Homo sapiens: one gene and its partners. The protein of the gene in region 3 purifies or fractionates together with the protein of the main gene of each other region. This does not show direct contact. Each region holds a gene or a part of one and is shown on either strand. Other genes may lie near its edges.

Region 1 (3,651 bases), on a different chromosome or scaffold from region 3:
AATAGCTTTTAAGAGGCATATTTCCTCACCTGTAATTGTTGCTGTAGATGGGTGATTTCGGCAATTCTCAACTCTCTAGATTTGTTTGTGCTCTCAATTTCTTGCCTTTGGGTGGTCAATCGACATCTGATATCTTGAAGTTTCCCTTCTAGTTGATGCTTTTTATCATTCTTGAACAAATGAAAGATAATAAAAATTATTACTGTTTTTAATGGTTCCATCTTAGTATATTTTCAAAGTATAACCAAACTTCACTCACTAGAGCTTCTAATTCAAATTCCAAAGTCTTTTTCTTTGCTTTCAGTACAACTATGTCCTCTTGTTCTTTGTTTCTTTGATTTAGTAGTTCTTGCCTTCGATTCCGTTCCCACTCAAGTTGTCGTTGCCTTTCAAGTTCCCGTTTTGCAGCCTGTGACATTTACAGAGACAAATTACTAATTTTTCAGTTCTTACACTACACAATGTCTTTTCACAAAAATGGCATCTAGGAAGTCTTTCCTTTTAGGGATGAAATATTAAACATTACAAGAAATCACATTAGAAAACAAAAAATTACATAAAAATACAGTATTCCTTCTATGGGAATAAAGGGAATACACAGAACTGGGTATTATATTTACATAATACTATATTTACGTAAGATGACAGGATTATTTCCCCATTAGAATTCCATTCTTTATGCCTTCAAGAATGCTTGATGTGCTAACTAAAAATGCTCCTTCTTATTTACTGACACGCCAAGAAGGAAAATTTATGTAGTAAAATCAAACTAAAACACCCCTGAACAAAAACAAACAAGAGTTGATTTTACTCCACCAAAAGAGAAATTATTACTTAACTCGTTTTAAAAGTCTGCGACTCCCCACTTCCTAATCATTCATTTCCTTTTTACCACAAAAGCTTTTGCTCCCTCCAACGACTGGCTCTGACGACTGCTAGATAGAGTACATATCAGAGCATCTGACAGTCTATGGGAATTGCCTCTGACTCATGGGTCATCCAACTACACCTGATACATGGTAAATGTCTATTAAATAATTCTGAATAAATACTCTAGAATATCATTTTTTTGGTACGTTGAAGAAAAGTTTGCCTATCTTTGTTCATTCTGAAAATTAAAATTTTGTTAGTGTCTGTCTGAACAAAAAGGAGTTACGGGGCCGGGCGCAGTGGCTCACGCTTGTAATCCTAGCACTTTGGTAGGCCGAGGCAGGCGGATCACCTGAGGTCAGGAGTTCGAGACCAGCCTGGGCAACATGGCGAAACCCTGTCTCTACTAAAAATACAAAAATCAGCCAGGCATGGTGGCTCACGCCTGTAATCCCAGCTACTCCGGAGGCTGAGGCAGGTGAATCACTTGAACCCAGGAGGTGAAGGCTGCAGTGAACTGAGATCGTGCCACTGCACTCCAGCCTGGGCAACAGAGCGAGAGTCTGTCTCAAAAAAAAAAAAAGGAGTTATGGCTATAAGTTTTGTTTCTTTCTTTTTTTGAGACAGGTTCTTGCTCTGTCACCTAGGCTGGAATGCAGTGGCCTCCAACTACTGGCCTCAAGTGATCATCCCTCCTTAGCCTCCCAAAGTGCTGGGATTACAGGCTTGAGGCACAGCACTCAGGCTATTTTTTTACATCGAAAAATTCCTCATTTTTATCTTTCATTCACATGAAAGAACCATGTGTTGCTTCTGCAGTAATGTACTAAAATTGGAAAGAGAGACAAGATTTGCTTAGCCCCTTTCCAGGTATGGCGCTAAATTTACGAAGCCTTCCATAGAATATAGGGAGGATGTCCCAGACATATTTTTAAAAGAGTTTAAAAAGAAGGTTGCATGGGCCAGGCGCGGTGGCTCATGCCTGTAATCCCAGCACTTTGGGAGGCTGAGGCGGGTGGATCACCCGAGGTCAGGAGCTCGAGATCAGCCTGACCAACATGGTGAAACCTCATCTCTACTAAAAATACAAAATATTAGCTGGGCGTGGTGGCGGGCACCTGTAATCCCAGCTACTCAGGAGACTGAGGCAGGAGAATCGCTTGAACCCAGGAGGCAGAGGTTGCAGTGAGCTGAGATCATGCCACTGCATTCCAGCCTGGAAGTGACAGAGCGAGACTCTGTCTCAAACAAAAAAAAAAAAAAAAAAGAAGATTGCAGAACAATGTAATTGGTATGATACTATTACAGTGGTTTTTAAAAAATTATACAGCCCTTACACTCTCCGCCATATAAACCTTTATATTTTTATATAGGTGTATACAGAGAAAACAGTCTGGAAAAACACTTTACTGGTATCAGTGGTTTGTTACAAAATTGTATCATCAAAAACTTGTACATTAATGTTCATAACATCATTGTTTATAATAGCCACAATGACCATCAACTGCTGAATGAATTAAAAAATGTGGTATACCCATATAACGAAATATTACTCAGCCATAAACAGGAATAAAGGACTGATTCATTTTACAATGTGGATGAACCTTGAAAACATTATGCTAAATGAAAGCCAGAAACAAAAGTCCATATATTGATGATTCCATTTATAAAAAATGTCCTGAATAAGTAAATCTAGAAAGATAGAAAGTAAAATTAATGATAGGAGCTGGAGGGAGAAAGAAATGGGGAGTAGCTGCTTAATGGGTAAAGAGCTGGAGTGATGAAAATGTTCTGGAATTAGGGACGATGGTTGCACAACTTTGGGAATATACTAAAACTACTGAATTGTAAAAAGACAAAGATGGCGTGAATAGATCACTTGGATAATTCTGAAAAGGGGTGATCGCACACTAACTCCGGGTGGCTCCACTCTCGCCTGCTTACCTCTCGCCTCTCAATTTCTTTCCTCCTCTCCTCCTCTCTCTGCCGTTCTAGCTCCCGCTGCTTTTCCAGTTGCTTCTCCAGTTCCAGTTGTCTTTTGCGCTCTTGCTCCTGGCGCTCACGCTCCTTCCTCTCCTGCTCCGCCCGCTCCAGCTGGGCCAGGCGCTCCTGCTCCTTGCGCTGCTGTTCCAGGAGAGCTTGCCTTCGTTTCTCCAGTTCCAGGTTGCCACGTTCAAAGTTCTCCCGCTTCTTATCTTCAAACGTTACTTCAGACAAGGAACACAGCAACTATGAAAACTCAAGATTTTCAACGGACTCTTTTCAAAGGAAAACTCACCAATGTATTTGAAATTTGTAGTACAAACCCAAACCCAGAACTCCCTAAGCTTCTGTGTCCTTGTTAATGAGCACAACGAAAACCCCCTTTGCCTAACCTCTCTGTTTATATCTTCTCCTCCACGCCAAACACTGTTTCTAAAAGATCCTTATCTAGCAGTTCTACATCACCATCCAGACTCCTTTCCTTCCCTGTTACTCCATCCTTTCCCTTCTTCCCATGAGCTTGCCCTAGGAATTAACCCCCTCTCTTCTGGACCATGAGTCTCTGTCTCTCTCCCTCCTTCCCTTTGCCTTGTAACCGTGCTGATGAGTCCTCTATTCTAACAAGATTTCTCAAAGCAGAGTGAAAGGTGAGCATTCGGCTTTTCACACTGAAGAACAAGCTGTGCCCTGATCCCTATGGAGATCACAGTCAGTCAACAATTTTTTCTAACCCATTATTCAGTTTCCTTCTTTAACACATCAATTATAAATTTAGAATGATTACTCAGTTCTATCCTT
Region 2 (3,651 bases), on a different chromosome or scaffold from region 3:
TGGAGGATTAATAAATACCCTACCCCTTAGGGCCACTGTGAGGATTAATGAGGCAAAACCTGTAAGACATTTTAGCATGGTGCTTGGTACATAAATGCTCCATAAGTGTTGCCTGTTTTATAAACAATAACCTAGTTTCTTCTGTTTTGTGATTCTAATTTTGAATTCACATTTGCTAATTTGGAAACTTTTTTCTTAAGGAAATTGTTCCTTCTGTAGATAAATTTGCAGTGTTATAGTTGGTCTTATGTATAGATCCTTTGCTTTATTTCCAGGTTTCCCTACATGAAGACTAATGTTTTAATGAATGATAAGATAGTTAGGGCTCGGCATGGTGGTGGCCCATGCCTGTAATCCCAGCACTTTGGGAGGCTGAGGCAATGGATCACTTGAGGCCGGGAGTTCGAGACCAGCCCTGCCAACATGGCCAAACTCTGTTTCTACTAAAAGGTACAAAAATTAACTGGGCATGGTGGTACCTGCCTGTAATTCCAGCTACTTGGGAGGCTGAGGCACGAGAATCACTTGAGCCTGGGAGGCAGAGGTTGCAGTGAGCTCAGATCACACCACTGCACTCCACCCTGGGCAACAGAGTGAGAATCTGTCTCAAAAAATAAAAACTAAAAAAAAAAGGATAGAAACACAGAGATCATGGAGTTGATTTCTTTCATTATGAATTTGAACAAACTAAAGCCAAGGAAGTTCAAGTAACTTTCTCAAGGTTACATATCCTTGAAAAGAGCTACATCTAAAATCCAGTTCTTCTAAAACCCAGTCCAGTGTGCTCAGTTATTACATATAATGAAGTCCTTCACTTTTGCGCTTCCTTACCCCCTGTTATCTGGCAGCTGAGTACCTACCTACTCATTCGTCATGCAAGATATACCTTAAATTCTTATTTCTTTATGGTATTTTCTGCATCCTGCTTTTGTTGGACTTTGTATTTATGTTACAGCAATAATAAGATTTTTCCCTGCATATTTGCTTATATGTCTGTCTCCCCTAGCAGAGTCATGGTTTTGGTCTGGGAACTTACACATTTTTAAAAATCCGTATCATTTAGCACAGTTCTTGTCCCAGTGTAGGTACTCAATAAACAGGTAACCTGAAAGAGTTGTTGTAGTGAGAATGCTACCAGATGAATGGGTATTCTTTAAAGTATTTTCTTTTTTTGAATCTCTTTAAAAAAAAAATCCATGTATACTAAAATTTCAAGAGAGAAATACTTATTGTCAGAAATTACTGAATCTTTTCTCTAAGTCACGTAGCATTCCCAGAGGATTCTTCTTAAAGGAAGCAAATGTATCCTAGACCAAGTCTACAGGTATAGCCATTTTTATTTTATTTATTTTTTTGAGACAGGGTCTCATTCTGTCACTCGAGTGCAGTGGTGTGATCATGGCTCACTGCAGCCTTGACCTCTGGGCTCAAGTGATCCTCCCATCTCAGCCTTCTGAGTAGCTGGGACTACAGGTGCACTCCATCATGCCCAGCTAATTTTTATATTTCTTGTAGAAATGAGGTTTCACCGTGTTGCTCAGGCTGGTCTTGAACTCCTGGGCTGAAGCAGTCCTCCTGCCTCAGTTTCCCAAAGTGTTGAGATTATAGGCATGAGCTACCACACCTAGCCCGTCAGGAAGTGGAGGAGGGCGTTTTTATGTTACATGTCTTTCTAGTAATAAATTCTGTTCTATATTTCTTCTTTGTGTTGGCAGATGCAAATGAAACTGATGGAAATGAAAGATTTGGAAAATCATAATAGTCAGTTAAATTGGTGCAGTAGCCCACACAGCATTCTTGTAAACGGAGCTACAGATTATTGCAGCCTCAGCACCAGCAGCAGTGAAACAGCCAACCTTAATGAACATGTTGAAGGCCAGAGCAACCTAGAGTCTGAGCCCATACACCAGGAATCTCCAGTGAGTCTAATACTTTCATAACCTTCATAATCAACCTCCTTGTGCAGATCCAAGTTTCACTGACATTATATCTAATATAAATACATGGCCTTGCCTCATCTGAGGACAATTGAGATTTCCTTTTTAGAAGCAGAGAGTCCTAATCCAAACAATTGTACGTTTTAACTAGTATAAAAAGATAACTTTAGCTAATTTTTTTTTTTTTGGAGATGGAGTTTTGCTCTTGTTGCCCAGGCTGGAGTGCAGTGGTGCGATCTTGGCTTACTGCAACCTCCGTCTCCTGGGTTCAAGCAATTCTCCTGCCTCAGCCTCCTGAGTAGCTGGGATTACAGTCACGTGCCACCACACTCAGCTAATTTTTTGTATTTTTAGTAGAGATGGGGTTTCATCATGTTGGCCAGGCTGGTTTCGAACTCCTGACCTCAAGTGACCCATCTGCCTCGGCCTCCCAAAGTGCAGGGATTACAGGCGTGAGCCACCACGCCCAGCCAGCTAATTTATTTTTTGTAGAGCCTGTTTTTAAAATGGTGGTTCTATAGAGTAAAACTTTTTTTTTAAGTACCCTCACCAAAAGCTAAAATTATTTTTATTACGTAGTGTTAAGGACATTCATTTACCAATTATTTGACGAGTACCAACTATGTGCAAGAGTGCTGTATTACATAATATAAGAGCTACAGAGACAAGAGACCTCAGTCTTTCCTTCAAGCAGCCTACAGTGTAGTAGTGTAACACTGTGTTAAAGGGCTGTGCTAAAGGAAGCGCAGAATTTTCAGTTAGGACAGTTTGGAGGGGGTTCATAAAGATTTTGTTGGGGAAAGCTTTGCGAGTTTAGACAAGTGAGAAGTGGTTAAGCAAAGAAGAGGAGGATACATTCCTGCCAGAGAAAACAGTATTAGTATAGGTACAAGGTGGAAGAATACATGCAGCACAGAATCTTGAGAAGTTCTGAAGGATATCTTGTGATGGTGGAGAGGGTATTGGTAAGAGATGAGGCGCTTCTAGTAGGCATCTGCATTACCTCTGGTGATTGTCAAAGTATAAATGTGTATCCCTTTCCCCAAACTTGCTGAACTAGTTTCTGGGATAGAGCCAGATATGTATATTTTAAAAACACACTCTATGGGTGATTGTCATGTGCACCTGGATAAAAATGACCAATTTTAGGTCAGAAAGTGCCAGAAGATGAGAAATTTAGATTCATCTTAAAGCATTGGGGGATTTATCCTACTGCAATGAACAGCCATTGAAGAATTTTAAGCAAGAAGTGACGTGATTAACTTTTAGAAATGTGGAAAACGGATTAGAGAGTGAGACTGTACCCGTAGAAGGGATAATGAGAAGAATAGAAGTTTGAGAGGTATTAAAAGTGAAAAGTTAACAGACTCGATTTTATTTACACAGTGCAGTCATGTATGCATTATAAAATATTCTTTCAAGCGCAAAAGGCAGATTACTAGGTTATCCTGCAAATAGATAAGGGTGGTATAAAGTAGCTATTGCCCTGCTACTTTTTTTTTTTTTTTTGAGACGGAGTCTCGCTCTGTTGCCCAGGCTGGAGTGCAGTGGCGCAATCTCAGCTCACTGCAACCTCTGCCTCCTGGGTTCAAGCTATTCTCCTGCCTCAGCCTCCCGGGTTTAAGCTATTCTCCTGCCTCAGCCTCCCGAGTAGCTGGGACTACAGGCGTGTGCCACCACACCTGGCTAATTTTTTGCATTTTTAGTAGAGACG
Region 3 (3,651 bases):
GAAGGGCCATGCCTCCCCCTTCCCAGGCCCACTCACCAAGGACGATGAGCTCTGCGTAGGCCTCATTGTTCCCCTGGAGGTCCTGGGCTGAGACCACGGAGCAGTAATACACACCACTGTCCCCCCACGCCGTCTGGTCAAAGGTCAGGTCAGCATCTGAGTCGGGATGAAAAGGCGTGAGGGCACCTTGGAGGCTGGGGCACCTAACCCCTGGAGGGCCAAAGACCCCTTCCCAGCACACCCAGGAGGGGGCAAGCAGTGGGCTGGGCAGGCTGCAGATGATCAAATGCATATGCAAAGATTCCTACCAAGGGCACACGGCCTTTTACACCCCGTTCTAAACACCTGGACTACTGCAAGAAGTCTGTGAGGCAGGACCATTATCACTTCTGTTTTGTGGATGACATTTCGGGTCTGGAAAAGCTGCACAGCTCTTCAGTATAGAGCAGTAATGGTGCCCTCGGAGCCTGAGGTTGTTTTTTTTTTTCTTTCTTTAGAGACAGGGTCTCACTCTGTGGCCCTGGCTGGAGTGCAGTGGTGTAATTATAGCCCACTGCAACTTCAACCTCCTGGACTCAAGCAATCCTCCCACCTGAGTAGTTAGGACTACAGGCACTCCACCATGCCCAGCTTTTTTTTTTTTTTGTTTGAATCGGAGTTTCACTCTTGTTGCCCAGGCTGGCATGCAATGGTGCGAACTAATCTCGGCTCACTACAATCTTCGCCTCCCAGATTCAAGCAATTCTCCTGCCTCAGCCTCCCATGTAGCTGGGATTATAGGCACCTGCCACCACACCTGGCTAATTTTTGCATTTTTAGTAGAGATGGAGTTTCGCCATGTTGACCAAGTTGGTTTTGAACTCCAGACCTCAGGTGATCCACCCCCACCTCAGCCTCCCAAAGTGCTGGGATTACAGGCGTGAACCACCACACCCAGCAGTCTGTGCTTCTCAACTTACAGCCATCTCTGAACCACCTCTCAGAGCCAAAGTCAGAACTCCCCTGATGTGAACTGCCACCCACAGGGCCTAGTGTAGACCCCAGGGATGGGTGTGGAGATAAACAGGCCAGATTCTAGGTACCAGGAGATGCCCAGGCACCCATAAGGAGTGGGTGTGTCTATGTGGGAGAGAGAGACTTACCCTCCCAGTGCCTTGGTTCCTCCCCCTCCCCTTCCATCCCCACATTCCAGGTCAGGCCCAGGGCTTGGGGACGCTCTTGTCTGAAGCAGCTGCAGGCAAGGAGCCTGTTAACTCTACCATCCATCAAAGTGTTTTGGCACATCCTGTTTCCTCTCTGCTTCTCAGGCACTAATTAAATACCTTCAGCCTTTCACCAGGGTGGGACCAGGGCACCTACCAGGCAACTCTGCCTTAAGCCACTGGGGACAGAAGTAGGCTACATTGGGCATCTCGGGCAGGAAATGCCCTCAGCTTCCCGGCCTCTTTCCTCCTAGCCTGACCTGCCTGCCACCTTCCCAAGGACGCGCTGCCCTCCTGCATGACAGCTCTGTGACGGCAGCAACCACGCGTGCTGCAGTCCACAGCACCTGGCACCCCCAGGAATGAAAGAACCCTTGCTTTCTTCATAAGGAAGGCCTCATGTCTACAGAAAAATCCTCCTTGCAACAGTGTCTGGCTACAGCATTCCAGACGCCTTCCCTAAGGTCCCATAGTCCCATGGTCCCCAAGGCCCTTGGCACGACGTGGTCTCTAGCTACCGTGCCAGCCTCACCCCTGCCATCGCCTTGGTTCTAGATTTGCACTGTCCCCCTGTGGGCTGGGCTTCTCCCACGGCTCCCCCACCCAACTGCTGAAGTCTTATCTCCCAGCTTAGGGGCCGACCATCCTTTGCCTGGTGAAAATGTGGGCTCCGTGAGGCAGAGCCCTGTCTGTCTCAGCCACTGCTGGGTCCCCAGTGCCTGACACAATACCTGGCAAGGAGCAGAAATGAACACCCTCTTGGCCGGACATGGTGGCTCACACCTGTAATCCTAACACTTTGGGAGGCTGAGGCAGGTGGATCACTTGAGGTCAGGAGTTCCAGACCAGCCCGGCCAACATGGTAAAACCCCATCTCTACCAAAAATGTAAAAAATTAGCTAGGCATGGTGGCACGCACCTGTAGTCCCAGCTACCCTGGAGGCTGAGGCAGGAGAATTGCTTGAACTCAGGAGGCAGAGATTGCAGTGAGCTGAGATTGCACCACTGCACTCTAGCCTGGGCAGTAGAGTGAGACTCCATCTCAAAAAAAAAAGAAAAAAAAGGAAACGAACCCCCTCTCCTCATGCTAAAGTCCCTTAGCTTTTGTCATCTGTCTCATCATTCTGGGCACATGGCTGGATTCAAAGACACATTTCTTTCTTTCTTTCATTCATTCATTCATTCATTCATTCATTCATCCTTCAACAATAATTACTGAGTACCACCTATGTTCTAGGCAGTATTTGAGACACCTGGGATACCACAGCAACAGTTCTCAAACTGCAGCCTCTAGACCCTGGGGTTCCCCAAGACGTTTTCAGGAGATCCTGAGGTCAAAGTTATTTTCCCAACAATACTAACTGTGGAGTTTTCCAGAGGCTACGTGACATACAATAGATATCACAACAGACTGAAGCAGCTCTGAGAAGCCAGGCTCTTCTATCCAGCCAGGCTTCGGAGACTTGCAAAAAAATAAAACCATGCCACCTTCTCATTCACAATGTTTTGTCTGATTTCAGAAAATGATTATTTTTTTCATAAAAGGTATTTTATTTATGTTAATCTATAATGACTTTATTGTCATTTAAACTATTTTGTAAACTTTTCTCATTCTGCTGCCTATGAAAACAAACTCTTTGAGCTCTTAATTTTTTTTTTTTTTTTGAGATGGAGTCTCGCTCTGTTGCCCAGGCTGGAGTGCAGTGGCACGATCTTGGCTCACTGCAGCCTCTGCCTCCTGGGTTCAAGCGATTCTCCTGCCTCAGCCTCTTGAGTAGCTGGGATTATAGGCGCCTGCCAACATAACTGGCTAATTTTTGTATTTTTAGTAGAGACAGGTTTTTCACTGTGTTGGCCAGGCAGGTCTGGAACTCCTGACCTCAAGTGATCTGCCCGCCTGGGCCTCCCAAAGTGCTGGGATTCCAGGCATGAGCCACCTCGCTAGGCCTGAGCTCTTAATTAACCTCAAAATCAAGAATATAAAAGAGGCCTAAGCCCGGAACCTTTGAGTTATAAATCCTTGCCCTTGCCCTTCTAGAGTTCAGATTCTAACTAGGAAAGAAAGACAAATATAAAATGTTAACTATGTCACATATCAGACAAAGATAAGCTGTATGGAGAAAACGAATCAGGGACAGCAGAGAGTGCCAGGCGTGGAGTGGGGGCTGTGCCATTTTAAACAAGGAGGCCAGGGAAGGCTTCCGGATATGGTGACCTTCAGAGCAGATGTGAAGGGGTTGAGGACACGACTTACCCTAATGATCAGGCATCTAAGCCACTGTTTTTTTGTTGTTGGTGTTGTTTTTTAATTTTGAGATGGGATCTTGCTTTGTTGTCCAGGTTGATCTTGAACTCCAGGGCTCAAGTGATCCACCTGCCTCAGCCTCCCAAAGTGCTGGGATTACAGGCATGAGCCACCGCCCCTAGCCCCCACCGTTTATTGAGCTCT

What was found.
Region 1: the proteins of LSR (region 3) and ITSN1 purify together in Homo sapiens (affinity purification with mass spectrometry; 2 studies listed by BioGRID and IntAct, with this or other methods). This does not show direct contact.
Region 2: the proteins of LSR (region 3) and EPS15 purify together in Homo sapiens (affinity purification with mass spectrometry; 2 studies listed by BioGRID and IntAct, with this or other methods). This does not show direct contact.

The regions. Positions count from the first base shown.
Region 1 is NC_000021.9:33,771,487-33,775,137, reverse strand, and holds part of ITSN1 (intersectin-1), read right to left. Parts: intron 3,078-3,651; coding exon 2,815-3,077; intron 410-2,814; coding exon 260-409; intron 171-259; coding exon 30-170; intron 1-29. UniProt on the Homo sapiens protein: Adapter protein that provides a link between the endocytic membrane traffic and the actin assembly machinery. Acts as a guanine nucleotide exchange factor (GEF) for CDC42, and thereby stimulates actin nucleation mediated by WASL and the ARP2/3 complex.
Region 2 is NC_000001.11:51,404,173-51,407,823, reverse strand, and holds part of EPS15 (epidermal growth factor receptor substrate 15), read left to right. Parts: intron 1-1,715; coding exon 1,716-1,919; intron 1,920-3,651. UniProt on the Homo sapiens protein: Involved in cell growth regulation. May be involved in the regulation of mitogenic signals and control of cell proliferation. Involved in the internalization of ligand-inducible receptors of the receptor tyrosine kinase (RTK) type, in particular EGFR.
Region 3 is NC_000019.10:35,255,450-35,259,100, reverse strand, and holds part of LSR (lipolysis-stimulated lipoprotein receptor isoform 2 precursor), read right to left. Parts: intron 157-3,651; coding exon 37-156; intron 31-36; exon of another isoform or gene 1-30. UniProt on the Homo sapiens protein: Probable role in the clearance of triglyceride-rich lipoprotein from blood. Binds chylomicrons, LDL and VLDL in presence of free fatty acids and allows their subsequent uptake in the cells.